Homo sapiens: one gene and its partners. The protein of the gene in region 1 purifies or fractionates together with the protein of each later gene. This does not show direct contact. Each region holds a gene or a part of one and is shown in the gene's direction. Other genes may lie near its edges. The genes, in order: MTCH2, NDUFB8, OCIAD1 and CYB5B.

Region 1 (7,025 bases):
ATTTTTTTAAAAAGGGGGGGAGGAAAAGTATAATTGATACCATTAGAAGATTCCTAATTTTTTTCTTTGTATGCCCTATGCAGCAGCAGCCTCAATTTGTATTTATTTATTAATTATTATTATTATTTTTTTTTTTTTTGAGATGGAGTCTTGCTATGTTGCCCAGGCTGGAGTGCAGTAGCATGATCTCGGCTCACTGCGACCTCCACCTCCTGGATTCAAGTGATTGTCCCGCCTCAGCCTCCTGAGTAGCTGGGATTACAGGCATTCGCCACCATGCCCAGCTAATATTTTTGTATTTTTGGTAGAGACAGGGTTTCACCATGTTGGCCAGGCTGGTCTCGAACTCCTGACCTCAAGTGATCCACCCGCCTCAGTCTCCCAAAGTGCTGGGATTACAGGCATGAACCACCATGCCAGGCCAATTACTATTATTATTTATAGTTTTTGTTTTTGTTTTTGTTTTTGTTTTTTGAGACAGAATCTCACTCTGTCACCCAGGCTGGAGTGCAGTGGTGCAGTCTCGCTCCATTGCAACAGACACCTCCTGGATTCAAGCAGTTCTCATGCCTCAGCTTCCCAAGAAGTTGTGATTACAGGCATGTGCCACCATGCTGGGCTAATTTTTGCATTTTTAGTAGAGATGGGGTCTTGCTATGTTGGCCAGACTGGTCCTGAACTCCTGACCTCCGGTGATCTGCCTACCTCGGACTTCCAAAGCGCTGGAATTAAAGGCGTGAGCCACTGCACCTGGCCTATTTTTATTTATTTTTAATTTTTTTAGAGATAGGGCTGCAATGTGGTGGTGAAGTCCTAGCTCACTGCAGCCTTGAACTCCTGAGCTCAAGGGATCCTCCCATCTCAGCTTCCCAAGTAGTTGGGAGTACATGTGCATGCCACCATGCCTGGCTAATTATTTTTTGTGAAGACACAGGGTCTCACTTTGTTGCCCAGGCTGTTCTTAAATTTCTAGGCTCAAGTGATTCTCCTTCCTCAGCCTCTTAAAGTGCTGGGATTACAGGGGTGAGCCACCATGCCCAGCCAACATATTGTTATTTTAAATCTTTATCTTTTCTATGAAAGTGACAAAAGGTATATCAGGGATTAAATGACAATCCATACCTGTTTTTCCTAGGGGCTTTATGGAGAAAGTGAGTTTTAAAGAACCAGAATTAGGATATTTAGTCTATGGAAAGTTTGATGACCTTTTCTCTGTATTGGTTAGAAGGGCAGGTTTTGGTATAGTGGTAGACTCCATTGATTTCCAAATTCTAGATGCCAAGTGACTCTACTGAGTTGGGCAAAATTTTGCCTTTTTTTTTTTTTTTTTGAGATGGAGTCTCACTCTGTTGCCCAGGCTATAGTGCAGTGGTGCAATCTCGACTCACTGCAACCTCCACCTCCCAGGTTCAAGCAATTCTCCTGCCTCAGCCTCCTGAGTAGCTGGGATTACAGGTGCCCACCAGCATGCCTGGCTAATTTTTTGTATTTTTTTGTTGTTGTTATTGTTGAGACAGAGTCTTGCTCTGTTGCTCAGGCTGGATTGTGGTGGCGCGATCTTGGTTCACTGCATCCTCCACCTCCTGGGTTCAAGTACTTCTCCTGCCTCAGCCTCCAGAGTAGCTGGGATTATAGGCACTTGCCACCACCCCCGGCTAATTTCTGTATTTCTAGTAGAGACAGTGTTTCACCATGTTGGCCAGGCTGGTCTCGAACTCCTGACCTCAAGTGGTCCACCCTCCTCGACCTCCTAAAGTGCTGGGATTACAGGCGTGAGCCACTGCACCCAGCCTTGCCTTTTTTGTTTAATTCAAAATTCTTTTCCCATATGGTACCTGACATATCATTAAACATGTTACTGTTTTCAAATAAGATCAGATAGCTATGTGGAGTTTTGAACATTTTACATTGTTTGTTTTCTGGTTTTGTTTGTTTCATGTTACTCCTGGCAAGCTGTGATGTTTTCTGATACGTAGAGCAACTGCCATTTTTTAGCACAGTGTAAACTTGAAGGATGAATTAAATGTATTATTATTATTTACAGTTTTTTCAAGATGAAGTGATTATACCTAAGTAGGAACATATATATCTACTGTTTATATCCGTTTTCATGTTTAGTATCTTTGTGAACACCAGTTAGTTTTTAAATCTCCTTTCCCTGCTCTTTTTTTTTTTTTTTTTTTTTAAAAAAAGACTGGTTCTTACTCTGTCACCCAGGCTGGAGTGCAGTAGTGCAATCTTGGCTCACTGCAACTTCCGCCTCCTGGGTTGAAGCAATTCACATGCCTTAGCCTCCCAAGTAGCCGGGATTACAGGCATGCGCCACCATGCCAGCTCATGTTTTTGTATTTTCAGTAGAGATGGGGTTTCACCATGTTGGCCAGGCTGGTCTTGAACTCCTGACCTCAAATGATCCACCTGCCTTGGCCTCCCAAAGTGCTGGAATTACAGGTGTGAGCCACCGTGCCCGGCCACCTTTCCCTGCTCTTTAATCATGTAAATGCTGTGTTCTGGAGTTTCATTTGTCCACAAAGGAAAAGTCTAAATGTTTTAGAAATTAAGGTTGAAGTTTATGTTTATTTATTTATTTGAAACCTAAATATAGGGGAGGAATTCTCTTTTGGATGCTTGATCGTTCCCCTGCTTCAATATGATTTGTTTCATTGAACTAAAATGATCTCTCAGGGAATCTTCTGTGCAGCAGAATATTTTGACAAGGTTTATCAACGTCTCAAGAGAATGGTTAATATTAACATGAATAGCTCCATGTTTTTTTCTATTTTAGTCTTGCTGGTGGATGCCCTCCTTACTCCCCAATATATACGTCTTGGATAGACTGTTGGTGCATGCTACAAAAAGAGGTATTTCTTTTTCTCTGTCTCTCTCATTTTATTTTGTTTTATTTTTATTTATTTGTTTTCTTAAATATTGTCTCTGGAATCCCAAGTTAACTCTTGTAGCTCACTTTAGCTAGAGTTAGTCTAGTCTGCCAGTTAATGTACACTTTACAGTGTTCTGTGTTTTCACTTTGGCATAATAGTAAAATGTGATGTTTAGAAATCATGAGCAGGAGTAATGAAGAAGAAAGAATCCCTAGATGAGACCTAGAAGCCATTTGAGTGCCCACATTCAACTTACAAATACGATCCAGGTAGATTATTATCCTGGTAAAATGATGGCCTTGATTTTAGACTCTTTTTTTCCCCCAAACTCACCTTTCATAACCACTTATTTGTCACAGTGGTATTGACAGAGCTGGTCTTATACTTCTAGAGTCTTGTTAGTGGATGATTTTGCCTAGATACCAATTTAGGGTTTGTTATTACTATGAGGTGTATAATCTGCAACAAAAAATTATTTATTATCTAGGCAAAGCTTTATTGGAAAATAAAATAATGGGCTGGGTGCAGTGGCTCACGCTTATAATTCTAGCACTTCGAGAGGTCTAGGTGGGCAAATTGCTTGAGCCTAGGAGTTTGAGACCAGTTGAGGCAACATGATGAGACCTCATTGCTACAGAAAATACAAAAACTTAGCCAGGCATAGCACCTATAGTCCCAGCTACCCAGGAGGCTAAGGTGGGAGGATCACCTGAGCCCAGGAGGTCAAGGCTGCAGTGAGCCAAGATTGCATCACCGCACTTCAGCCTGGGTGACAGAGTGAGACCCTGTATCCAAAAAAGGAAAATAAAATAACGGCTAGGTATGGTGGCTCATGCCTATAGTTCCAGTTACTCAGGAGGCTGAGCCAGGAGGATCACATGAGTCCAGGAGTTTGAGGCCAGCCTGGGCAACACAGCCAGACGTGTCTCTTAACAAAAAACTACAGGCCAGGTGCAGTGGCTCACAGGTGTAATCCCAGCACTTTGGGAGGCCAAGGCGGGCAGATCACTTGAGGTCAGGAGTTTGAGACCAGCCTGGGCAACGCAGTGAAACCCCATCTCTACTAAAATACAAAAGAAATTAGCTGGGCGTAGCAGCGTGTGCCTGTAGTCCCAGCTACTGGGGAGGCTGAGGGAAGAGAATTGCTTTAACCCAGGAGGTGGAGGTTGCAGTGAGCCAAGATTGTGCCACTGCACTCCAGCCTGGGTGACAGAGCAAGACTCCATCTCAAAAAAAAAAAAAAGACAATAACAACAACAAATGGATTGGCTGTGGGCTAAATTTAGCACAGGATCACTTAAAATGATTATCAGTTTAAAGCTGTTTTTGAAGGGGGGTCCACTTCTTAAAAGATTGTAGAAGAAAGCGTATAAAGAAGCTCTTTGTTGCATTATTTTATAGCACTAGTGATATATAAGAGAAAGGCCTTTGAAATCTGAATGAAAAGGCCTAAGTGTTGTTTGTAGTTGCTCTTGCTTAGTGTGCCCACAAAGCCCCTCTGTGAATCCAAGCTTGAATACTTGAATGATTTCAGTACAGACCTACTATGAACATTGTGCATTTCATTCTGAGTTTTACTCTCTATTGTACAGTGTGGTCCCTGTTTAAATGGAAAAAATGGCCTTTCCTTCCTTCCTTTTCTGACTAACACTCTGTTATAGGAAGAAAGCAGACAGAGAATGGATTACGGTGTCAAACACACTTAAAGTAGGAACAGTTGTTCCTGTAGGTGCTTACAACAACAGCAAATCTTGATTGGGCATTTACTGTATACCAGATATCATGCTAAGAGCTTTTCTTACATCAGCTCATGTAATCCTCAAAACAGCTGTGTGAGAATAGGTGTCATTCTTAATCACCCATTTCACATATGAAGAAACTGGGGCTTAGAGCAGTTTAGTGCCAATTACATAATGCAAGGTCACATGGCCTATATTTGGGAAGGCTCAGATTTATACTCCAGAGTGTACTCAGTTGCACTCAGAACATTATTACTTTATTTTTATTTACTTATTTGGTTCTTTATTTTTTAGAGACAAGCTCTGTCGCCCAGGCTGGTGTGCAGTGGTGGCATCACAACTCACTGTAGCCTCAAACTCCTGGGGTAAAGCAATCCTCCTACCTCAGCCTCCCAAGTAGCTAGGACTACAGGCATGCTTCCACCATGTCCTGTTAATTTTTTTGTTTTGTTTTGTTTTTGAGACAGGGTCTCACTCTGTCACCCAGGCTGGAGTGCAGTGGCATGGTATTGGCTCACTGCAACCTCTGCCTCCTGGCTGAGGTCTCTGGCTCAAGTGATCGTCCCACCTCAGCATCCCAGGTAGCTTGGACTACAGGCACATACCGCTAAGCCCAGCTCATTTTTTTGTTTTTTGTTTTTTGTTTTTTTTAATTTTATTATTATTATACTTTTAAGTTTTAGGGTACATGTGCACAACGTGCAGGTTTGTTACATATGTATACATGTGCCGTGTTGGTGTGCTGCACCCATTAACTCATCATTTAGCATTAGGTATATCTCCTAATGCTATCCCTCCCCCCTCACCCCTGTTTTTTGTTTTTTGTTTGTTTGTTTTTTTGTTTTGTTTTGTTTTGTTTTGTTTGAGACGGAGGCTTGCTCTGTCATCCAGGCTAGAGTGCAATAGCACGATCTTGGCTCACTGCAACCTTCACCTCCCAGGTTCAAGCAATTCCCCTGCCTCAGCCTCCTGAGTAGCTGGGATTACAGGTGTCCGCCACTACGCCCGGCTAATTTTTGTATTTTTAGTAGAGATGGGGTTTCACTATGTTAGTCAGGCTGGTCTCGAACTCCTGACCTCAGGTGATCTGCCTGCCTCAGCCTCCCAAAGTGCTGAGATTACAGGCGTGAGCCACCATGTCTGCCCAATTTTTTGTATTTTTTGTAGCAACGGGGTTTTGCCATGTTGTGCAGGCTGGTCTCAAATTCCTGAGCTCAAGTGATCCTCCTGCCTTGGTCTCTCAAAGTGCTAGGATTACCGGTGTGAACCATCACACCCGGCCTTTAATTTTTTAATTTCTTGTAGAGATGGGGTCTTACTATGTTGTCCAGGTTGTTATTACTTTGATTATAAGATTTTATAAGTAGTCCTTAGAAACATGATTTCATTTCATTAAGAAATAAATAGGCCGGGTATGGTGGATCACACCCGTAATCCCTGCACTTTTGGGAGGCCAAGATAGGCGGATCACTTGAGGTCAGGAGTTTGAGACCAGCCTGGCCAATATGGTGAAACCCCACCTCCACTAAAAGTACAAAAATTAGCCAGGCACGGTGGCGCGTTCCTTTCCCAGCTACTTAGGAGGCTGAGGCAGGAGAATCGCTTGAACCTGGGAGGCAGAGGTTGCAGTGAGCCGAGATTGCACCACTGCACTACAGCCTGGGCAACAGAGCGAGACTCCATCTCAAAAAAGAAAAACAAAGAAATAAATGAAAGCTAGCACTTACTGAATGTTAGGCACTGTTCTACATGACTCATTTGCTAAGCCAGCTGGAAAGTGGCAAAGCCAGAATCCAACCTGGGCGTTCTGTCTGCCCAGAGTAAGAACTTAATAAGGAGAAATTGTAGTTAGTTCATAGTAGCTCAGCCTTTCAGAGAATACTAATCCTTGTTCTGTAGTGATAGTCCCAGTTTTGTCCTAGATTTAGTCACGTCTCCCAATTGGACCTCTCTGCTGATTTGGATTGGCTGATCTCATCTCGCTAGATATTATTTGTGTTTTGTTTTGTTTTGTTTTCCAGGGGAATATGAGCCGAGGAAATAGCTTATTTTTCCGGAAGGTCCCCTTTGGGAAGACTTATTGTTGTGACCTGAAAATGTTAATTTGAAGATGTGGGGCAGGGACAGTGACATTTCTGTAGTCCCAGATGCACAGAATTATGGGAGAGAATGTTGATTTCTATACAGTGTGGCGCGCTTTTTTAATAATCATTTAATCTTGGGAAAATTCAGGTGTTTGGTGTCTGCCTTTTTTGTTCTTTTTTCCAGCACAACATAACTTACCACTGATACTCCCCCTTTAGTTATTCTGAATTAGGATATTTTTGCTCCAAATTCTTATTTTACTTAACCAGAAGGGAAAAAAAGTTGTATTTTCCTGAAGCTACAGGCACTTTGTCATGTG
Region 2 (7,751 bases), on another chromosome or scaffold:
GGCTTAACTATGTAATTATGCTACATAGTAACCATGCTACACCAAACCGATAATAGGGCTACCTCTGTGGAAGTGTTTGAGGCTGCAGGGGGCAATCAAGGCTTTCATTTTATCTGCAGTGTTTGAATTTTTTTTTTTTTTTTGAGCTAGGGTCTCACTCTGTCACCCAGGCTGGAGTGCAGTGATGCAATCTTGGTTCACTGCAACCTCCACCTCCCCAGCTCAAGCAATCCTCCTACCATAGCCTCCCAAGTAGCTGGGACTAAAGGCACACACCACCATGCCGGACTAATTTTTTTTCCTTCTGTAGAGAAAGGGTTTTGCCATGTTGCTCAGGCTGAATGTTTGAATTTTTACAAGAATGTATTAATTCATAACCTTGGGAATTAAAAATAAATTAGGCCAGGCATGGTGGCACATGCCTGTAATCCCAGGACTTTTCAAGGCTGAGGCAGGAGGATTACTTGAGCCTGGGTGTTCCAGATCAGCCTGGGCAACATAGCAAGACCTCATCTCTACAAAAAATTTTAAAAATTAGCTCGGTGCGTTGATGCATGCCTGTAGTCCCAGCTACTAGGGAGGCTGAGGTAGGAGGATTGTTTGAGCCTGGGAGGTGCAGGCTGCAATGAGCCATGATCATGCCACTGCACTCCAGCCTGGATGACAGAGCAAGATCCTGTCTTACTAAAAATAAATAAATTAATTAAGATCAAGAAGATTAAAAGAACTAAAATCAGTAATGAAACAGGGATATTACTGCTGACTTTACCCCCCAAAAAAAGCATATAAGGACATACTGTAAACAATTGTATGTCAAAAAATTACAGAACCTAGATGAAATGGACAGATTCCTAGAAAGGCACAAGCTATAATAGCTGATTCAAGAAGAAATGGAAAATCTGAATAGACCTGTAACAAGAGATTGAATTAGGAATCAAAAACATCCCATAAAGAAAAGCCCAGAAACTGGGCATGGTGGCTTACATCTGTAATCCCTACACTTTGGGAGGCAGAGGCAAGCGAATCACTTGAGCCCAGAAGGTCGCGACCAGACTGGGCAACATGGAGAAACCCCATCTCTACCAAATCCCCCCAGCCAAAAAAAAAAAAAAAAAAAAATTAGCAGGCATGGTGGCACGCCTGTAGTTCCAGCTATTCGGGAAGCTGAAGTGGGAGGATCACTTGAGCCCGGAATGTGGAGGTTGCAGTCAACTGAGATTGCACCACTGCACTCCAGCCTTTTGAGACAGAGCTAGGCCTTGTCTCAAAAGAAAAGAAAAGGCTGGGCACAGTGGCTCATGCCTGTAATCTCAGAACTTTGGGAGGCCGAGGTCGGGGGGACCACCTGAGGTCAGGAGTTCGAGACTAGCCTGGCCAACATGGTAAAACCCCCATCGCTATCAAAAATACAAAAATTAGCCAGGCATGGTGGTGCACGCCTGTAGTCCCAGCTACTTGGGAGGCTGAGGCAGGAGAATCGCTTGAATCCCGGAGGCGGAGGTTGCAGTGAGCTGAGATCGTGCCACTGACTCCAGCCTGGGCAACAGAGCAAGATTCCATCTCAGGAAAAAAAAAAAAGAAAAAGAAAAAGAAAAGCTCAAGACCAGATAGATTTACTGATGAATCCTACCAAACATTTTTTAAAAAATTAACACTGGTCTGGGTGCAGTGGCTCATGTCTGGAATCCCAGCACTTTGGGAGGCCACGGCGGGTGAATCACGAGGTCAGGAGACCGAGACCATCCTGGCTAAAACGGTAAAACCCTGTCGCTACTAAAAATACAAAAAAATTAGCCGGGCATGGTGGCGGGTACCTGTAGTCCCAGCTACTCAGGAGGCTGAGGCAGGAGAATGGCGTGAACCTGGGAGGCGGAGCTTGCAGTGAGCCGAGATTGCACCACTGCACTCCAACCTGGGCAACAGAGCGATACTCCGTCTCAAAAAAAAAAAAAAAGAAAGAAAGAAAACTATAGACCAATATTTCTTATGAATATAGATGCAAAAATCCTAACAGAATACTAGCAAACTCAGTGTAACACCATATAAAAGAATTATATACTATGACCAAGTGGGATTTATTCCAGGAATGCAAGGTCAGTTCAACATCTCAGAATGATCAATATAACACACCATGTAGTAATCAATATTTTATTGATTAATATTTATAATCAACATAATACACTATATTAGTAAAAGAAAAAACCCTACATGATCATCTCAATAGACACAGAAAAAGCTTTTGACAAACCCCAACACCCCTTCCTGATAAACACAGGGTTCCAAATGATACTGTAAAAAAGCAAAAAAACCTACAGAGTCAGAGAAAATATTTATGAATTGTGTATCTGATCAGGGAATTGTATCTAGAATACATAAAGAATCCTTACAACTCAACAATAAAAAGACAAACCAATTTAAAAATGAACAAAGGGTTTGAACAGATATTCCTCCAAAGAAGGTATACCATGGCCAATAAGCACATGGAAAGATGCTCAGCATTATTAGTCATCAGGGTACTGCAAATGAAAACTGCAATGAAGTACCATTCACAGGCACTTGCATGGTGATACTAAAAAGAGACAATAACAAGTGTTGATAAAGATGTGGAGAAACTGAAACCCTCTCACACACTGCTAATGGGGATGTAACATGTCACAGCTGCTTTGAAAAACAATTTGGCAGTTCTTCAAAAGTTAAACCACAGAGTTACCCTATGACCCAGCAATTCTACTCCTAGGCATATAACCAAAAGAATAGAAAGCATACATCCAGACAAAAACTTATACAAGAATGTTCACAGCAGCATTATTCACAATAGCCAAACAAGCAGAAACAACTCAAATGTCCATTAACTGATAAATGTATAAATAAAATATTGTACTGTACATTCATATAATGGAATATTATACAGCCCAAAAAGGAATGAAGTACTGATATGTGCTACAACACAGACAAACTTTGAAAACATTATTCTAAGTGAAAGAAAATGGACACAAAAGGCCACATATTGCATGATCCATTTATATAAACTGTCTGAATAGGCAAATCCATAGAAACAGAAAGTAAATTAGTGGTTGCCAGTGGGTAGAGGTAGGGGCAACGTGCTAATGTGTATGGGTTTTTTCGGAAGCAATAAAAATGTTTTAGATAGTGATGATGATTGCACAACTTTGTAAATGTACTAAAAATAACTACTGTACACTTTAAAAGGTTTTTTTGTTTTTGTTTTTGTTTGTTTGTTTTTTGTTTTTGAGACAGTCTCACCCTGTCACCCAGGCTGGAGTGCAGTGGCGTGATCTCGGCTCATTGCAACCTCCATCTCCTGTGTTCAAGTGATTCTCTTGCCTCAGCCTCCTGAGTAGCTGGGATTACAAGTGTACACCACCATGCCCAGCTATTTTTGTATTTTTAGTAGAGATGGGTTTTTGCTGTGTTGGCCAGGCTGGTCTTGAACTCCTAACCTCAAGTAATCTTCCCACCTCAGCCTCCCAAAGTGCTGGGATTACAGGCGTGAGCCACCGCACCCGGCCTAAAAGGGTGAATTTATGGTATGTGAATAATATCTTAATAAAAATAAATAAATTAGATCAACTCTGTTTCTTGACCTAAATTGGATCAGGGTTTGCTATTGGTTGAATGCAGATGTTGTGCAATTATTCTGAACATCAACTAGTGATGTCATTTACAAGACAGCAAGTTGCTGTGTAGTCCTTCCCAAAATTTATATATTAAATAGTATATATCCATATTTGTTTACTTTTTATAACTTAAAAAAAAAGAGACGAAGTCTCACTATGTCACCCAGGCTGGTCTCAAACTCCTGGTCTCCAGCCATTCTCCAACCTAGGCCTCCCAAAGTGTTGGGATTACAGGTGTGAGCCACAGCTCCCAGCTTATATGCATTTTTATTGCTCTGATATATACTTGAGAATGTTTATAATAATAGGTTCTGCTCCAAAACAGTGGTCACCTGAAAAGTCACTGGAAATACGTGCATATTTATAATGTGTAAGTTATTCAAATCCCAAGTGAAAACATTCATATGCAAACATAATAATGTCTCCAATTCTTCTGTTGAGTTAGTTTGTTCATTATGGGCCGGTTTGTAATTTGTTTTATCCAAGTCCTACCAACTCTGAGGCTTTAAGCTGTCTCTGGAGAGCTGCCTCTGGTGATAAGTTTAATTTTACATTTGTTGGGTTGAGGTGACTGAGACATGCAGATGGAAACACGGACTGAAACTAAGGAGCCAATTCAGGGCCGAATTGTGTGTTGCACTGGCGTCTAAGTGAAGATCAACCCATTTGGAGAACAGAACAACAAGCAAGACCAACAGGTGAATTTGAAGAATGATCATGTTTGGGGATGGAAGGAAGTGCCCGTGAAGGAGAGGAAAGCAAGCAGCCAGAGAAGAGAGTAAGACAGGCTCATTTCACTAGTACAGCTCCTGGGGGAGGTGGTTAAGCTGTCTACCTGAGTTGCTCAGGTTCCGAGTTCCCATCATCCCTGGATGGGTCTAAGTCAGCTCAGGGAGAAAAAGGACACAACATTCTGAAATGTCAGAGACCTGCCTGGTTTTCCCTTCTTCCCGCTTATCCTTCCCAGCCTCTATCCAACCCTTGGCTTCCCAACTGCGTATTTAAACCCCGCCCCTGTTGAACCCTTCGGCTTTTCTTCACTCCCGGCTTCCTCCGTCACGTTTGGCCCGGCTCAGCCGCCGTGACAGGCCTTTGCGCATGTGCAGAAGGGAAACGTGAAGAAGGTGAAGATGGCGGTGGCCAGGGCCGGGGTCTTGGGAGTCCAGTGGCTGCAAAGGGCATCCCGGAACGTGATGCCGCTGGGCGCACGGACAGGTCCGCGAGAACGGGCGAGACCTCAGTGTGGGAAGGGGGTACCTGAAATTTGGTGTATCGGGAGGGGGGATCGTAGATGCCGCGGCGGCAGCCTCCGGGTAGGGAGTGGAGGTGGCGTTGATATATCCAGAAAATGGGGTGGAGGATCGCACTGATCCTGCGAAGTCCCGGGCTCGGACCTCTGCAGCCCCTGCGACTTGAAGCCTTCGGAGCGGCTGGAGAGCGGGCTCGCTTCTGACCTGTTCTCTTCTGCGTTCTAGCCTCCCACATGACCAAGGACATGTTCCCGGGGCCCTATCCTAGGACCCCAGAAGAACGGGCCGCCGCCGCCAAGAAGTATAATATGCGTGTGGAAGACTACGAACCTTACCCGGATGATGGCATGGGGTGAGACAGAGAGGGTATGCTCGCACCCAAGTAGTGATGGGAGAAGGCCGGCTGGGTTGGGTGGCTTGACTGTGACCCTTTTTCCCGAACCTTCTCGTGACCCCTCAGAGTCAATGGAGTGGGTGCTTTTCTCTGTGGAGGGAGGTGGGAGGGGGGTGGGTGAGCAGCTGCAGCTGAGAGGACTTCAATTTTCTCCTTGGCTCAGGCTGTTTCCTCAAATGAGGAAGCCGAGGTTTTAATGGCTCCCTCGAGGACCCCCGAATAGCAGGAGCCTTCCTTGGCTCTATCCAGAGCGTCGAGTTTCATTTAGATTGAGCATCTGCTGCGCTCAGGTGCTGTCATCCAGGCATGTGACCAGGCTGGAGCTGGACTCCTGTCATGAGAATCTTATTTGTAAACGGAGTACTCTATATTTGTGTGTATGTCTCTTTAAAAAAAATGTTTTTCTGTTAGTGCTGTGGAAATCGTAGCAACTATTAAGCAGATTAAACAGCCAGCCCCCTTACGTACTCCAGTTGATGTTATCCTATCCCTTCCACACTCTTCCGTATCCATACCCACATAACATCCCAATGGTTAATTATCTGAAGTGATTATCATCGCCTTTATTTCCTGTCCTAATGTCACTCTTTCAATCTTGGTTTCAGCAACTTCTATTCTTCTTGTTATACACTCATTTTCTGTAGCATATGTCTAGTTGTCATCATTTCCTGTTTTTTCTTATGTTGTGGACAAGAGCAGCCTTGTTCGAAGCCAGTGTCAGATGAACCTGGATTTGTTGGGGAAAACCCAGCTTAGCAAGAGGTCCCATGAGGTGTTTGAGACGCAGAGATGAATGCCAACTGGGTGGTCAAGAACACAGTTATTACGAGAAGAGTGCTTTTCTAATCTGTACCCTTTTTGTTTTTATTCCAATTAGCTGGGTGACTTTGGATTCAGACTCTAAACTTTAATTTTTCATTTTCTATCTAATGAGGGAATCAGAGTACAGTCATATGTCACTTAACAACAGGGATACATTCTGAGAAATGGGTTGTTAGGTTATCTCCTCATTGTATGAACATTAGGAGTGTACTTACAGAAACCTAGATGGTATGGCCTGCTACACACCTCGGCTTTATGGTATGGCCTGTTGCTCTGAGGCCACAAACCTGTACAGCATATTGCTATACTTAATACTGTGGGAAATTGTAACACAATGGTATTTGTGTATCTAAACATAGAAAAGGTACATAAAAGTATGCTATAAAAGATAAAAAATGGGCCAGGCACAGTGGCTCACGCCTGTAATCCCAGCACTTTGGGAGGCCAAGGCAGGCAGATCACGAGGTCAGGAGATCAAGACCAGCCTGGCTAACGTGGCGAAACCCTGTCTCTGCTAAAAATACAAAAATTAGCTGGGCGTGATGGCAGGTGCCTGTAATCCCAGCTACTTGGGAGGCTGAGGCGGGAGAATTGCTTGAACCCGGGAGGTGGAGGTTGCAGTAAGCTGAGATTGTGCCATTGCCCTCCAGTCTGGGCAACAAGAGCAAGATTCCGTCTCAAAAAAGAGAAAAAGATAAAAAATGGTACATATGTATAGGGCAGCTTTATTATAAACTTATGGGACCCCCTTCGTGTATGTTGTCCGTCATTGACTGAAATGGTATGTGGCACATGACTGTAATTGATTGCTAAATTCCCTTTCATCTCTAATATCACACGATTGTGTGACTTTTTTTCTTTTTATTGAAAGAAGTTTGGGGAAGCTGGGTTTTTTTGTTTTGTTTTGTTTTTTTCAGACAGTTTCACTCTTGTTGCCTAGGCTGGAGTGCAATGGTGCGATCTGGGCACACTGCAACCTCCACTTCTTGGGTTCAAGTGATTCTCCTGCCTCAGCCTCCTGAGTAGCTGATATTACAGGCACCTGCCACCACACCCAGCTAATTTTTGTATTTTTAGTAAAGGTGGGGTTTCACCATGTTGACCAGTCTGGTCTTGAATTCCTGACCTTAGGTGATCTGCCCACCTCAGCCTCTCAAAGTGCTGGGATTATAGGCATGAGCCACCACACCTGGCCCAGGGAAGGCTTATGTACATTAAAATATTTCAGAGTTTGCCATGAACTTTTAAATACAGTGTGGACTTCTATGGTTAATTCTGTGCTTAGTGACTAGAACTTGAGCTCTTGCCTTGAGGTTTAGTTCCTTTGTCCTTAGGTGAGGCAGTTATCTCTGTCACTTTGTTTCTCATCTATAAGATGAGGAGACTCTGAATTGTCTGAGGCTGCTCACAGCCCTTTCCAGAAGTTCTTGCTGTCTTTCAGGTATGGCGACTACCCGAAGCTCCCTGACCGCTCACAGCATGAGAGAGATCCATGGTATAGCTGGGACCAGCCGGGCCTGAGGTTGAACTGGGGTGAACCGGTAAGAGAACCATATCTCATTTGACCTTCCTTCTCTCTTTGTCTTCTTGGCGATTCTTTAGCTCAGATGGCACTTCTTTGACCAAGTAACACTAAGCTTTCCTGCT
Region 3 (7,025 bases), on another chromosome or scaffold:
TTTGTTCCAGAATTTTATAATGGTAAAATATTTTTTATAAGAAAAAGTATTAGACCTGGAAGGAACTTCAGAGATCATCTGCTCAAACTACCATATTTCGCAATTGAGAAAACCAGGATTCAAAGAAGCTTAGTGATTTGCCCAAGGACATTTCCTAATTGTCAGCAGAGTGGGGTTAAGAACCCAAGGTTCCTGAAGTACACACGATTTCCTTCAGAATTTTTAATATAACATATATGGTGAAGGGAAATGAGTTCAGTAATTACTTATTACTAATGAAATGCAAAGTGTTTTAATCCCAATATAAGGTTATAATATTTTTCTTTACATTCTTTTTTTAGTAAGAAAAATGTAGTTTTGAACCATCATATAATACTAGAACTAATTAGGAGAAATTTAAATCCTCTTTGCTTTATATAAGTATAGTATATATTTATTTAGCAGAATAAATGTTTATGGTTGAAAATGGCTGGGTGCAGTGGCTCATGCCTGTAATCCCAGCACTTTGGGAGGCCGAGGCGGGTGGATCACCTGAGGTCAGAGTTCAAGACCAGCCTGACCAATATGGCGAAACCCTGTCTCTACTAAAAATGCAAAATTAGCTGGGCATAGTGGCACATGCCTATAATCCCAGCTACTTGGGAGGCTCAGGCAGGACAATCACTGGAACCTGGCAGGGGGAGGTTTCAGTGAGTCGAGATTGTGCCCCTGTGCTCCAGCCTGGGTAACAGAGTGAGACTCTGTCTCAAAAAAAAAAAAAAAAGTTTATGGTTGAAAACATTATTTAATGTATAGTTATGTTGCTTAGAAAATTCTGATTATTCACTGGGATCCTACCTTTGAGTTCTAAATAAGTATCACAAAAATTATTTTTTAAAAAGTTAATATTAAAAGTATATGCCCAATTTGTATGTCTTATTGAAAACATCTTTGAAAAACAGTACTTTTGGTGTGGTATGTGGTAGGTAAGACTTTGTAAGTTAAGTAGTTGTTCACTGAATGTTAGCATCTTTTTTTTTTAATGTTCATATGGCCTTTTTTGCTGTTTATAAATTGTATAAACTATGTTCACTATTTGATCCTGTCAACCAATATTAGGAGTAACCACTGCATTATATTTACATTTGACTCTATGATAATATGTAATATTCACATTTTGACTCTCTTTGGGAGAAATAAAGAATAAATGTTAGTTCCCAGGCCAAAATAACAGTTGATACTTTCTTCTGCATCAACATTGCATCTGTTAGACTGGAATGAAAACAACACATATTCTGATTAAAGGCTATGTTTTATACTTTTCAAGTAATTATTTTCAACTTTTTTTCCTTTTTTTTTGAGACAGAGTTTTGCTCTTGTTGCCCAGGCTGGAGTGCAATGGCGCGATCTCAGCTCACTGCAACCTCCGCCTCCTGGGTTCAAGCGATTCTGCCTCAGCCTCCTTAGTAGTTAGGATTACAGGTGTGTGCCACCACGCCCAACTAATTTTGTGTTTTTAGTAGAGATGAGGTTTCTTGTTGGCCAGGCTGGTCTTGAACTCCTGACCTCAGGTGATCCGCCCGCCTCGGCCTTCCAAAGTGCTGGGATTATAGTTGTGAGCCATTGTGCCTGGCCTATTTTCAGTATTTTTGTTTAAATTTTGTAAAAAGGTAAAATAAATGATTTTTGAAAATAGCTGGAGTTGTTTTCATAGAGTCTGTGGTTATAGGACTATTTAACTATATATTGAGTAAAATCTATGCTATGTCAAGTTTTATTCAGTTGTCCCTAGTAGAATATATTTCTCTTTTAATTCTGTATACAGTATGAGTAACTCCAGTTTAAAACACTGGTATTTTAATGAGTTTAAATTGTACTGTTATATATTATGATACATATTTTTCTTCTGGCTGTGGTTTAGTTTTTAAAATTTTTGATGTCCATTTTAATTTTTAGAAATAAAAGCTTAAAAATATGGGTGGAAGTAGATTTCAGTTTGATGATTATCTTGGTGAAAGTATAGTACCTGTGAAATGGTGGTAATAATTTGATTCTTTATTCTATTTTGATTGTAGCTCCTTTTGTAAGGAGCATTTGTAAAATTTAGTTGCTTTAGAGTTATACAAATCCTTTTATTACCATTTATTAACTGTTTGTTGTTTTAGGACCTGATCCCAACCTTGAAGAAAGTCCTAAAAGAAAAAATATTACATATGAGGAATTAAGGAATAAGAACAGAGAGTCATATGAAGTATCTTTAACACAAAAGACTGACCCCTCAGTCAGGCCTATGCATGAAAGAGTGCCAAAAAAAGAAGGTATGATAGTTTAGTCTGAATCACTTTACTGTTGAGGATTGGAAACTAAAACATTACTTTAAAACAATACTATAAAAAATTAATTAATATGTGATTTAACTCTTCAAGCAATTAACCAAAGTAAAATATTTTTAAAATAGTACTTTACAGTTATCAGTTCTTTTTTTTTTTTTGAGACGGAGTCTTGCTCCGTCGCCAGGCTGGAGTGCAGTGGCACGATCTTGGCTCACTGCAGCCTCTGCCTCCTGGATTCAAGCAATCCTCCTGCCTCAGCCTCCCAAATAGCTAGGACTACAGGCCCCCACGCCCAGCTAATTTTTTGTATTTTTAGTAGAGATGGGGTTTCATCATGTTGGCCAGGATGGTCTCGATCTTTTGACCTTGTGATCCGCCTGCCTCAGTCTCTGAGAGTGCTAGGATTACAGGCTTGAGCCACCGTGTCCGGCCAGTTTTCCATTTTTAAGGTGTTCCAAAGGCCATTTTGTGTTAGAAAATAATGAAGTCAAGGCCAGGTGTGGTGTCTCATGCCTGAAATCCCAGCACTTTGGGAGACCAAGCTGGGTGTATCACTTGAGGCCAGGAATTGGAGACCAGCATGGCCAACATGGCGATACCTTGTCTCTACTAAAAATACAAAAATCAGCTGGGCATGGTGGTGCATGCCTGTAATCCTAGCTACTCGGGAGGCTGAGGCAGGAGAACTGCATGAACCCAGGAGGCAGAGGTTGCAGTGAACCGACATCACGCCACTGCACTGCAGCCTGGATGACGGAGCGAGGCTCTGTTCCCCCCTCCCCCCGCCAAAAAAAGGAAGAAAATAGTGAAGTCCAAATAGTAAGTCTTAAGACAGCAAGATTAGTTTAACACAGGGTAGAGACATACTCATTTGACTGTTTCTCTCTTACAACAAATCTCCTTGGAGATCTGATAGTCTTATTTTCCTAATGATACATCTATCGCATAAGTTGCTGTAGTGACCTGAGGTTGGCGTTGCGCTGTAATACCACTTGTGGCCTAACCACAGAATGATTGAGTAATGAGATTGATTTTCTTGTACATTTGGGTTTTTCTCGTGTTTTTTTGTTCTGTTTGTTTGTTTTTTCTTTTTGAGATGGTTTTATTCTGTCACCCAGGCTGGAGTGCAGTGGTGTAATCATGGCTTACTGCAGTCTTGACCTCCTGGGTTCAAGCAGTCCTCCTACCTCAGCTTCCTGAGTAGCTGGGACTACAGTTGTATGCCACCATCCCTGGCTGTTAAAAATTTTTTTTGGTGCAGTGGGTTTTTCCCTATGTTGCCAAGGCTGGTCTCAAACTCCTGGGCTCAACCAGTCCTTTCACCTTGGCCTCCCAGAATGCTGGGATTATAGGTGGGAGCCACTGTGCCTGACCTTTCTTGTACATTTGTGAATTTGAAAGAGTTATATGCCAGCTTCTAAGGCATTTCTTAAAGATGAATTTTTAAATCCTGGTTTCTTTTAAGTCTTTTTGGAATAGCTATACATTAGCCAAAGTAAATTTTTTGATACAAGTTTACCTCTAAAGGAAGAGGACATTCGAATAGGGTTTTATAGCTATTTCAGTATAGGGTTTTATGATTTTCTCTTAAGGAATTTCAGAGTATGTGTCATTGTTTCAAGATTTTCTATTTACTACTTTAAAAATGGAAATAATAGGTCTTTGGTACCTTCTTGAAGGTCATATGCCACAAAGAATGCAAAAATACATGAAAGTCCTTAGTATTTGTTGTTATGGTCATTTTTTAGAGCTAATTTTATTTTTAATCATTAGCGGTTGCTTCGTTTGGAGTTCTGTTTTTATAACAATGATAGATAATATCTGCATCATATTATTGATGTAAAAAAAATCTACCTTTGAAATGAATTAGGGATGTACCATACTTTTGAATGTTTGTCATCAAACAACATTTAGCATAAACTGCATCTAGTGGCCATTGCTCTGTAATATGTAAAGACTTGTCGGTACTTTGTCCTGCTAATTAATTTGAGGATTTAGATTGTAAGCTCTGTGAGGGCAGAAAGTAATATTTTTCTCATTTTTGTAATCTTTTCTATTATTGTCTGCATAGCATAGTACTTTACACTGTATCAGAAATTGAGTATTTTGGTTTAGGCTTCTATGGTAATAGAGGTTAAGAAAGGAAATTTGGTAGACCTTTAACATTTGCTGGATTTTGACATTTTTGATTTTTGACTGAAGTCTTCAAGTTCTGTTACATGACACAAGAATGTGAAATGATTTTTTCTTTTTTTGGGAAAAGCTGGTTTTTTGTGTGCTTTATATAATTTAAAGAAAAGACTTGTTATGAAATAGTTTCAGTCATTTTCTGAATTATTGTTGAAATTAGTACAGGGTAGATTCACATGGTCAGAAAGTGTCACTTAAAGTTTTCACCTTTAGCTTATGTGGTTGATATTTATCTAATTAGAAATTAAGACCCAGAAATTTAAAAAATTCAAGCACATATTCCATTAGCTGCCAGAGCAATGTCACCACACATCCTGTAGCTTCTAGAAAACCATGTAACATATACTCATGAGGGAATGAGAGCAAGGGGAAAAGGCAAAATGTGAAACATAAGGATATATAATGTCTTAGTATAATAATGAAATAATTTTGACTTCATGTATTCCCTGAAGAGTCCACACTGTGATAACTGCTGCTTTATATTGTTATGATTACTCACAGACAGAAGCTATGTGGAAGAGAAGCAAAAAAGTAAAGGAGTAGAATAGACAGCGGAGCATGTTTTAAAATGTAAAATATAGAGTACCTGTAAAATGTAGTAGTATTTTCTTCTTATAGTAGTATTTACAGCCCTGAGAGAGAAGATTGAATTAATTACAACTTGAACACTTGACCATTTCTACTGCTGTATTTTTTGTGAAAAACGAAAATTCAAATGTTTGTTTTATTATTTCCCACTATTTTTTTTTTTTTTTGTATATGGCTTAATATGTGCCACACTTAGGTAGTATGGTAAAGATGTAAAGGTACCTAGGCTTTGGATCTAAACAGACCTATACTCAAATCTCAGTTCTTGTTAGGGCTTGTACCTTGGGCAAGTTACTAATCTTTTTTCTCACCATTAAAATGAGAATTGTGTTTAGAAGTTTGTTATGAGGACTAACTATTTATGTAAAATTCTAGATACAATGCATTTGTCCAACCCCAAGTTCACAAAAGTCTGGTCATCCCCTTTTTGTAATTATAATTTGACTCTCATGTGCTTTTATTCAAATGAGAGAGAAACATAACTTTTCATCATAGCAACAAACTTAAAATAATGTCTTTTACTTATTATTGCTTGGAATCATCAATTATTTATGCTTTTTTCCTAGTCAAAGTAAACAAGTATGGAGATACTTGGGATGAGTGAAAAATTACATCATTGGACATGAAGGAGTTTCAACATCCAGCTTCATCTAGGTGGTCATGATTACCTGCATGCTTTGAGCTCAGCAGCAGTCTTCATAAACACATTTAAAACAAGATCCTGGGTTTTTGTGGTTTGACTTCTATGGTGTTTTAAAAAAACACAGATTTTTAGTGTTAATATTGTGTAAATGTACTCACCTTAGGGATTCATTTGAATGATGGTATTATACCATGATTGTATACAGTTTGTGAAATTGTTGCAAGGGCAAAGATAACTCTTAAAAAACCGTCGAGATTACAATGCTCTAGAATCAGCATATAAGAAAATAAATGATATCTGCATGTTGAATTGGGGTGGATGGGGGGAGCAAGCATAATTTTTAAGTGTGAAGCTTTGCATCAAGAAATTATTAAAAAGCTTTTTTTCTCCAGTATTTTCTGTATTATCTTAATGTTTATGGCAAATAAAATGTAAAGGAACATGCAACAGCCCTCATCTTCCTTGATTTTATGGTTTTATTGTTTGTAATTTATTGATTTATTTTTAAGCTAGTTATAATCATGTAGGTATAGGAAATAAAGTCATCTATAATATTTCTATAATATGGCTATAATATGGCTATAAATCTATAATATGGCTGGAGGCAGTGGGCAGTGGTTCATGCCTGTAATCCCAGCACTTTGGGAGGCCGAAGTGGGAGGATTGCATGAGTCCAGGAGTTTGAGACCAGCCTGGGCAACAAAGCGAGACCCTGTCTTTACAAAAAAATAAAAATTAGCTGGCGATGGTGTCGTGTGCCTGTAGTCCTAGTTACTTAAGAGGCTGAGTTGGGAGGATCAGTTGAACCCAGTGGTTCTGGGTTGCAGTGAGCTGTGGTCACACCACTGAACTCCAGCCTGTGCGACTGAGTGAGACCCTGTGTCTAAAAAAATAAAAATATAATGAATGTGATTTATGTAGATAAATTGATAATATAGTAAATAGGTAAATGCCTTAAAAAGCATTTTTAAAGAATTTGTAAATTCTAAAACAATAAAAATTTGGTATACATCACAGAGACTGATATTATGTTAAAAAGAAAAATTGGTGTACAGTGACCCTTCGTATCTGTGGGTTCCGTATCTGCAGATTCAATCAACTGCAGATTGAAAATATTTGAGGGAGAGAAATGGATGGTTGTCTGTACTGAACTCTTGTTATTCCCAAACAATACATTGTAATAACTATTTACATAGCATTTACATTAGGCATTACAAGTAATCTATAAATGACTTAAAGTATATAGGAGGATGTGCATTGGTTATATGTAAATACTACACCATTTTATAGTG
Region 4 (7,025 bases), on another chromosome or scaffold:
GTGATCCTTCTATTTCAACCTCCCGAATAGCTGGGAAAAGGTGTGCACCACGACGCCTGGCTAATTTTTAAAATTTTTTGTAGAATTGGGGTCCCACTGGCTGGGTGTGGGCTCATACCTGTAATCCCAGCACTTTGCGAGGCGAAGGTGGGCAGATCATGAGGTAAGGAGTTCCAGACCAGCCTGACCAAAATGGTGAAACCTCGTCTCTACTAAAAATACAAAAAAATTAGCTGGGCGTGGTGGCACACACCCGTAATCCCAGCTACTCAGGAGGCTGAGGCAGGAGAATCGCTTGAACCCGGGAGGTGGAGGTTGCAGTGAGCCAAGATGGTGCCGTTGCACTCCAGCCTGGGCGACAGTCAGACTCTGTCTCAAAAAAAAAAAAAAAAAGAATTGGGGTCCCACTATTGCCCAGTGTGGTCTGGAACTCCTGGGCTCAAGGGATCCTCCTGCCTGGGCCTCCCAAAGTGCTGAGATTACAGGTGTGAGCCACTGTGCTCAGCCTAATTAGCTATTCTTATTTATTCTGTTTTCTTGTTCATTCCAAGCCTATTCATTCATTCACTTATTCAAATATTTATTAAGCCTTTACTATGTTCTAGACACTGTTCTAGGTGCTGGGGATTTAGTAGTGAATAAACAGCTATGCCCTCATGGAGATTACATGGCACAGGAGGCAGACGATAAGCAGAGTAAATAACTAAAATATATACTACATTAGGTAGTGGTAAGTGCTAAGAAGAAAAATAATACAGGGGGCTGGACACGGTGGCTTAGGCCTGTAATCCCAGCACTTTGGGAGGCCGAGGCGGATGGATCATGAGGTCGGGATTGAGACCATCCTGGCCAACATGGTGAAACCCCATCTCTACTAAAAATACAAAAATTAGCTGGGCATGGTGGCATGTGCCTGTACTCTCATCTACTTGGGAGGCTGAGGCAGGAGAATCACTTGAACCCAGAAGTTGGAGGTTGCAGCGATCCAAGATTGTGGCACTGAACTCCAGTCTGGTGATAGAGTGAGACTCCGTCACAAATGAAAAAAAAAAGAAAAATAATACAGGGAAGAGGACTGTGGAATATTTATGTGGTGTGAGGAGGAGGGTTTGAAATTTTAGCGATGGTGCCGAGATAACTTTATGAAGATGACTAAGTAAAGGCCAGGAGCAAAGTAAAGGAGCTAGCCATGAGGGTATCTGTAGGAAGAGCATAGAGCATTCCTGGCAGAGGAAACAAGTTCAAAGGCCTTGAGATGGGAGGATGTCTGGTATGTTTGAGGAACAGTCAGGGAGGCCACAGTGGTTGAATAGTTGCACATGAGATCAGAATGATCAGGGGAGGACAAATCATGTACAACTTCACAGGTTTTAGGAAGGACTTTGGCTTTTATTCTGAGATGGGAAATCATTGGAGCAGAAGAGTGACATGATGTGACTTAATGGCGTAATAGGATCGTTCTGACTACATTGTTGTGAAAGACTGAAGGAAGAGTGTGTCTGGAGTTGGTTCCTTCCGGTGGGTTTTTGGTCTCTCTGACTTGAAGAATGAAGCCATAGACCTTCGCGGTGAGTGTTATAGCTCTTAAAGGTGGCACAGACCCAAAGAGTGAGTAGCAGCAAGATTTATTGTGAAGAGTGAAAGAACAAAGTTTCCACAGTGTGGAAAGGGACCAGAGCAGGTTGATGCTGCTGGCTGGGGTGGCCAGCTTTTATTCCCTTATTTGTCCCCGCCCACATCCTGCTGATTGGTCCATTTTACAGAGTGCCGATTGGTCCATTTTTACAGAGTGCTGATTGGTGCATTTACAATCCTTTAGCTAGACACAGAGTGCTGATTGGTGCATTTTTACAGCATACTGATTGGTGCATTTACAATCCTCTAGCTAGACACAAAAGTTTGCCAAGTCCCCACTCCACCCAGGAAGTCCAGCTGGCTTTGCCTTCTTAAGAGGACAAGGGCAGAATTGAGGAGACCAGTTAGGAGGCTGTTTTAGTAATTAGGCAAGAGATAGTGGGTTGTACCAGAACAAGTGTCAGATTTTGGATGTGTTGTGATGGAAGAGCCAATAGGATTTAATGATGCGCCAGATTTGGGGAATGAAAGAAAAATGAGTCAAGGATAACACCAAAGTTTTTGGCTTATGAGTCTTCAAGAGTTGGGTTGCTATTAGATGAGAGAGGGAAGATTTACATTGGTATTCATCCTTCTCTTTCCAATCTGATGTCACTTTGGGGCCCCTCCTTTAGCAAGAGGTTCCTAATCTTAAGTGTCCTGTGTCTGTAGCTTACCATTTTTTTGATTAATGACTGGTTAGAGTATGATACTGGAGTTTGAATGTGGTAGTTTAGAATTAGTAATATAATTGAATTGTCTTTCCCTGGCAGATTAATTTTGCATTGTTTGAATCAGTGCATTCATGAGTTGTTGAAATCATGAATGAAAGTAGTACATGTCATTATCTTTCCACCATTTAGTAGTTTAGAAAAATCACATAAAAATGATTGTAATATCTTATGACATTGATAGAAAATATCAAAGTGCATCTCTCTTATCAAGGGTAAAATTTTGTGAAACTTTGTTCAGTTATATATAATGTATTTTTTTTTCTTTTTTTTGGAGACAGTCTGGCTCTGTTGTCCAGGCTTGAGTGCAGTGGTGCCATCTTGGCTCACTGCAGCCTCTGCCTCCTGGGCTCAAACAATCCTCCGCCTCAGCCTCCCAGGTAGCTGGGACTACAGGTATGTACTACCACACCCTGCTAATTTTTTTGGTATTTTTTTTGTAGAGATGGGGTTTCATCATGTTGCCCAGGCTGGCCTCAAACTCCGGGCTCAAGTGATCCTTCCGCCTTGGCCTCCCAAAATGTTGGGATTACAGGCATGAGCCACTGTGCCTGGCCTATAATATCTCATGTATATGGTGTTTATTGGATTGCAGTGTAAAATTATTTCCTTACTGGGTATTACAAGTGAAAATTTGGAAGCCATTGACTTGTGTATAAATAGTCATTTGTCAAAAGAGTAACTTGAAATAACATTGTGATATTTTAAAACTTTTTTTTTTTTTTTTTGAGACAGAGTTTCACTCTTGTCGCCCAGGCTGCAGTGCAATGGCATGGTCTCAGCTCACTGCAACCTCTGCCTCCCAGGTTCAAGTGATTCTCCTGCTTCAGCCTCCTGAGTAGCTGGGATTACAGGTGAATGCCACCATGCCCGGCTAATTTTTCTATTTTAGTAGAGATGGGGTTTTGCCATGTTGGCCAGGCTGGGCTTGAACTCCTGACCTCCGGTGATTCACCCGCCTCGGCCTCCCAAAGTGCTGGGATTACAGGTGTGAGCCACCATGCCCAGCCCTATTTTAAAGCTTTATATGTGTATTTATTTATTTATTTATTTTGAGATGGAGTCTTGTTTTGTCGCCCAGGCTGGAGTGCAGTAGCATTACCTTGGCTCACTGCAACCTCTGCCTCCTGGGTTCAAGCGATTTTCCTGCCTCAGCCTCTGGAGTAGCTGGCACTACAGGTCCCTCCCACCACACCTGGCTAGTTTTTATGAGATGGGGTTTCACCATGTTAGGTAGGCTGGTCTCGAACTCCTGACCTCAAGTGATCTGCCCACCTTGGCCTCCCAAAGTGCTGGGATTACAGGTGTGAGCCACGGCACCGGCCTATATGTGTTTTTAGAAACTGTCACCATAAATGAGAATATTACTTTAGGAACCATCTCATAAATGGGATAACATTTTATTAACCCAACAAATATTTGTTAAGTTCTATATAGTAGTAGGCCCTGGTGGTGTATAAAAATAAACATAAACATGGAACCCCAGCCTGGGCGACAGAGTGAGATTCTGTCTTAAAAACAAAACAAAGCTGGGTGCAGTGGCTCACGCCTGTAATCCCAGCACTTTGGGAAGCCAAGGTGGACAGATCACTTGAGCTCAGGAGTTTGAGACCAGCCTAGGCAACATGGCAAAACCCCATCTCTACAAAAAATACGAAAATTAGACGAGCATGGTGGCATGAGCCTGTAGTCCCAGCTCCTCAGGAGGCAGGGGTGGGAGAAGGGCTTGAGGCCAGGACATCGAGGCTGCAGTGAGCCGAGATAGCACTACTGCACTCCAGCCTGGGTGACAGCGAGACCCTGTCTCCAAACAAACAAAACGAAAATATCCCATGATACTGCCTTCTTGAAGCTACCATTCTAGAGGAGTCAAAACAAAAACAGACAGATGAAATAATTTTAAATTATGGCACTTTTATGAAGAAAACAAATGAGTTGAGAAAGAAAAATCAGGAAAGATTTAATTTAATAAGAGTGATCTGGGAAAGCCTCTGTGAGAAGATAACATTTAATTGAGCTGATGGTCATGAACCTGATTTGGAAAGAATACAGAAAAGAGCATTCCAGCAGCATTTGAAGTCAAGCAAGAGTTTGGCACATTAGTGGGACTGAAAGAAGCTGTGTCTATAGTGAATGAAGGACAAGAATGGCCAGAGAGCTAGGCGGGACCCAGGACATGCAAGGTCTGGTAGGTAGTTTGGATTTGATCCAAAAGGTAATAGAAAACCACTGACATGTTTGAAGATGAGGGATGACATTGAAGCAATTTACAGACAGTCCCTGACTTACTAGGGCTTGACTTAAAATTTTTTGACTTTACCATGGTGTGAAAGTGATATGTGAGTACTCATACAAGCATTCTGTTTTTCACTTTCAGTATGGTATTCAATAAATTACATGAAATAGTCAGCACTTTATTGTAAGATAGGCTTCATGTTAGATGATTTTGCCCAACTGTAGGCTAACGTAAATGTTCTGAACACATTTAAGTTAGGGTAGGCTAAACTCTTTCAATCCCAATAATTTGTTTGAATACTACATCTTCCGTGCATATACTTATATGTGCAAACATGTATATACTTATATATACAAATATGTACAAATATATACAGAAATAGAGTCATAGTATTCTATTAGTTGATTTGCCCTCGTAGTCGTCATAGTATTTATTGAGTGCTTATTATTCTAAGTGCTTTACATGTAATTTCTCTTTTAAGCCTCCCAACAACCTGTTTTAGAGGTGAGAAAACAGGAGCAGAGGAGTAACTTTCACAGAGTCATAAAGTTAGGTGGCACAGGTGAGATTTGAAATCAAGCACTGTGACCCTATAGCCTGTACTCCTTTTTTTTTTGAGACAGAGTCTCGTTCTATCACCCAGGCTGGAGTGCAATGGCGCGATCTCAGCCCACTGCAACTTCCACCTCCCGGGTTCAAGCGATTCTCCCTGCCTCAGCCTCCTGAGTAGCTGGGATTACAGGCACCTGCCACCACATCTGGCTAATTTTTGTAGTTTTAATAGAGACGGGGTTTTGCCGTGTTGGCCGGGCTGGTCTCAAACTACTGACCTCAGGTGATCCGCCTGCCTCAGCCTCCCAAAGTGCTGGGATTACAGGCCTGAGCCACCATGCCCGGCCTGTGGCCTGTACTCTTAACCGTACCCTAGGATCTGCCTCAATGTTTTTCATGGCTGCAGAGTATGGAATTAGGTCTGTTTTATAGCTTTGTTCACATTTTAAATATAATTTGGAAGGATTGGGAATGTGGTATAGGGAAGTTAGAACAGATACCCCTTTCCTGGAACCTAGGTAATTTTTTTCATTTTTTAAGTAGGTCAAACAGGTATATAGTAAAAAGCCACCTTCCCCTCTGCCCAGTTTCACTGCCTCCTAAAGTTAACTCCCATTGTTTGTGTATCCCTCTAGTTTCTTTTTGCCTGTACAAGCCAAAGTGAATGTAGTTTCTCTTTTTTTACACAAAAGATAACATACTATGCACACTCATCTGTGTCTTGCCTTTTTCACTTAACTGTGTATCTCAGGGATCTTTCCATAGCAATAACTGGCATCCCTCCTCCTCCTTCACCACAGCTGCATAGGATTTATTATATGGATCATTATTTAAGCAGTATCCTATTGATAAACATTTGGGTTTTTCAATATTTTGCTGTCACATTTTTTTCTCTAAATCAACTTAATTGAAATCAAATGTAGGGACAATAAAATGTACAGATTTTGAATGTAGAGTTCAGTGAGTTTTGACAAATGTCTCATCTGTATAATCACCATCACAATCAATATACGGTCATGGGTCACTTCACAATGAGGGTGCATTCTGAGAACTGCATCATTAGTTGATTTTACCCCTTCACAAACATCATAGAGTATATTTACACAAACCTAGGTAGTATAGCCTGCTACACACCTTAGCTGTACGGTATAGTCTCTTGTTCCTAGGCTATAAACCTGTACAAACCTGTAGGCAGTTGTGACACAGTAACAAGTATTTGTGCATCTAAACATAGAAAAGGTGCAATAAAAATATGGTATTATAATCTTATGGGACCACCATCATATATATGGTCCATTGTTGACCATATTATGTGGCACATAACTGTAGAACATTTCTACCAGTGTTGTCCCCATACACACTCATTTTATTTCTAACACTATAGTACGTACTCTTCTGTCTAGCTTCTTTTGCTCAGTATATCTGTGAGATTCATCTATTTTTTCTGTGTTATCAGTGATTTGTAACTTATGATTTCATTGTGTGAACATACCAAAATTTGTTTATCCATTCACTTGTTGATTGACATTTGGGTTGTCTCCAGTTTGGGGCTGTTATGAATAAAACTGCTAGGAACTGTCATGTACAAATCTTTGTGTGGACATATGATTTTATTCCTCCTGGGCAAATACCTAGTAGTAAAATTGCTAGGAGTGAGATTACTAGGTTATATGTCTGTTTAACTTTTTAAGCAACTGCCAGAGCATTTTCCAAAGTGTTTATATAATTTTATACTCCCACCACAATGTAGGTTTTCCAGTTTCTTCACATCTTCATTGATACATTGTATTTGTCAGTTATTTTACTTTTAACCATTCTAATGGGTGTGTGGTTGGCCAGGTGCTGTGGCTCACGCCTGTAATCCCAGCCCTTTGGGAGGCTGAGGTGGGCAG

Evidence for each region.
Region 2: the proteins of MTCH2 (region 1) and NDUFB8 fractionate together in Homo sapiens (co-fractionation; 2 studies listed by BioGRID). This does not show direct contact.
Region 3: the proteins of MTCH2 (region 1) and OCIAD1 purify together in Homo sapiens (affinity purification with mass spectrometry; 3 studies listed by BioGRID and IntAct, with this or other methods). This does not show direct contact.
Region 4: the proteins of MTCH2 (region 1) and CYB5B purify together in Homo sapiens (affinity purification with mass spectrometry; 2 studies listed by BioGRID and IntAct, with this or other methods). This does not show direct contact.

Annotation. Positions count from the first base shown.
Region 1 is NC_000011.10:47,618,537-47,625,561, reverse strand, and holds part of MTCH2 (mitochondrial carrier homolog 2), read left to right. Parts: intron 1-2,785; coding exon 2,786-2,861; intron 2,862-6,642; coding exon 6,643-6,729; coding exon of another isoform or gene 6,730-6,762; 3' UTR 6,763-7,025. UniProt on the Homo sapiens protein: Protein insertase that mediates insertion of transmembrane proteins into the mitochondrial outer membrane. Catalyzes insertion of proteins with alpha-helical transmembrane regions, such as signal-anchored, tail-anchored and multi-pass membrane proteins.
Region 2 is NC_000010.11:100,526,869-100,534,619, reverse strand, and holds the start of NDUFB8 (NADH dehydrogenase [ubiquinone] 1 beta subcomplex subunit 8, mitochondrial isoform 1 precursor), read left to right. Parts: upstream 1-4,748; 5' UTR 4,749-4,768; coding exon 4,769-4,853; intron 4,854-5,113; coding exon 5,114-5,240; intron 5,241-7,545; coding exon 7,546-7,645; intron 7,646-7,751. UniProt on the Homo sapiens protein: Accessory subunit of the mitochondrial membrane respiratory chain NADH dehydrogenase (Complex I), that is believed not to be involved in catalysis. Complex I functions in the transfer of electrons from NADH to the respiratory chain.
Region 3 is NC_000004.12:48,855,069-48,862,093, forward strand, and holds the end of OCIAD1 (OCIA domain-containing protein 1), read left to right. Parts: intron 1-2,144; coding exon 2,145-2,297; intron 2,298-5,088; exon of another isoform or gene 5,089-5,135; intron 5,136-5,656; coding exon 5,657-5,694; 3' UTR 5,695-6,747; downstream 6,748-7,025. UniProt on the Homo sapiens protein: Maintains stem cell potency. Increases STAT3 phosphorylation and controls ERK phosphorylation. May act as a scaffold, increasing STAT3 recruitment onto endosomes. Involved in integrin-mediated cancer cell adhesion and colony formation in ovarian cancer.
Region 4 is NC_000016.10:69,427,618-69,434,642, forward strand, and holds part of CYB5B (cytochrome b5 type B), read left to right. Parts: intron 1-7,025. UniProt on the Homo sapiens protein: Cytochrome b5 is a membrane-bound hemoprotein functioning as an electron carrier for several membrane-bound oxygenases.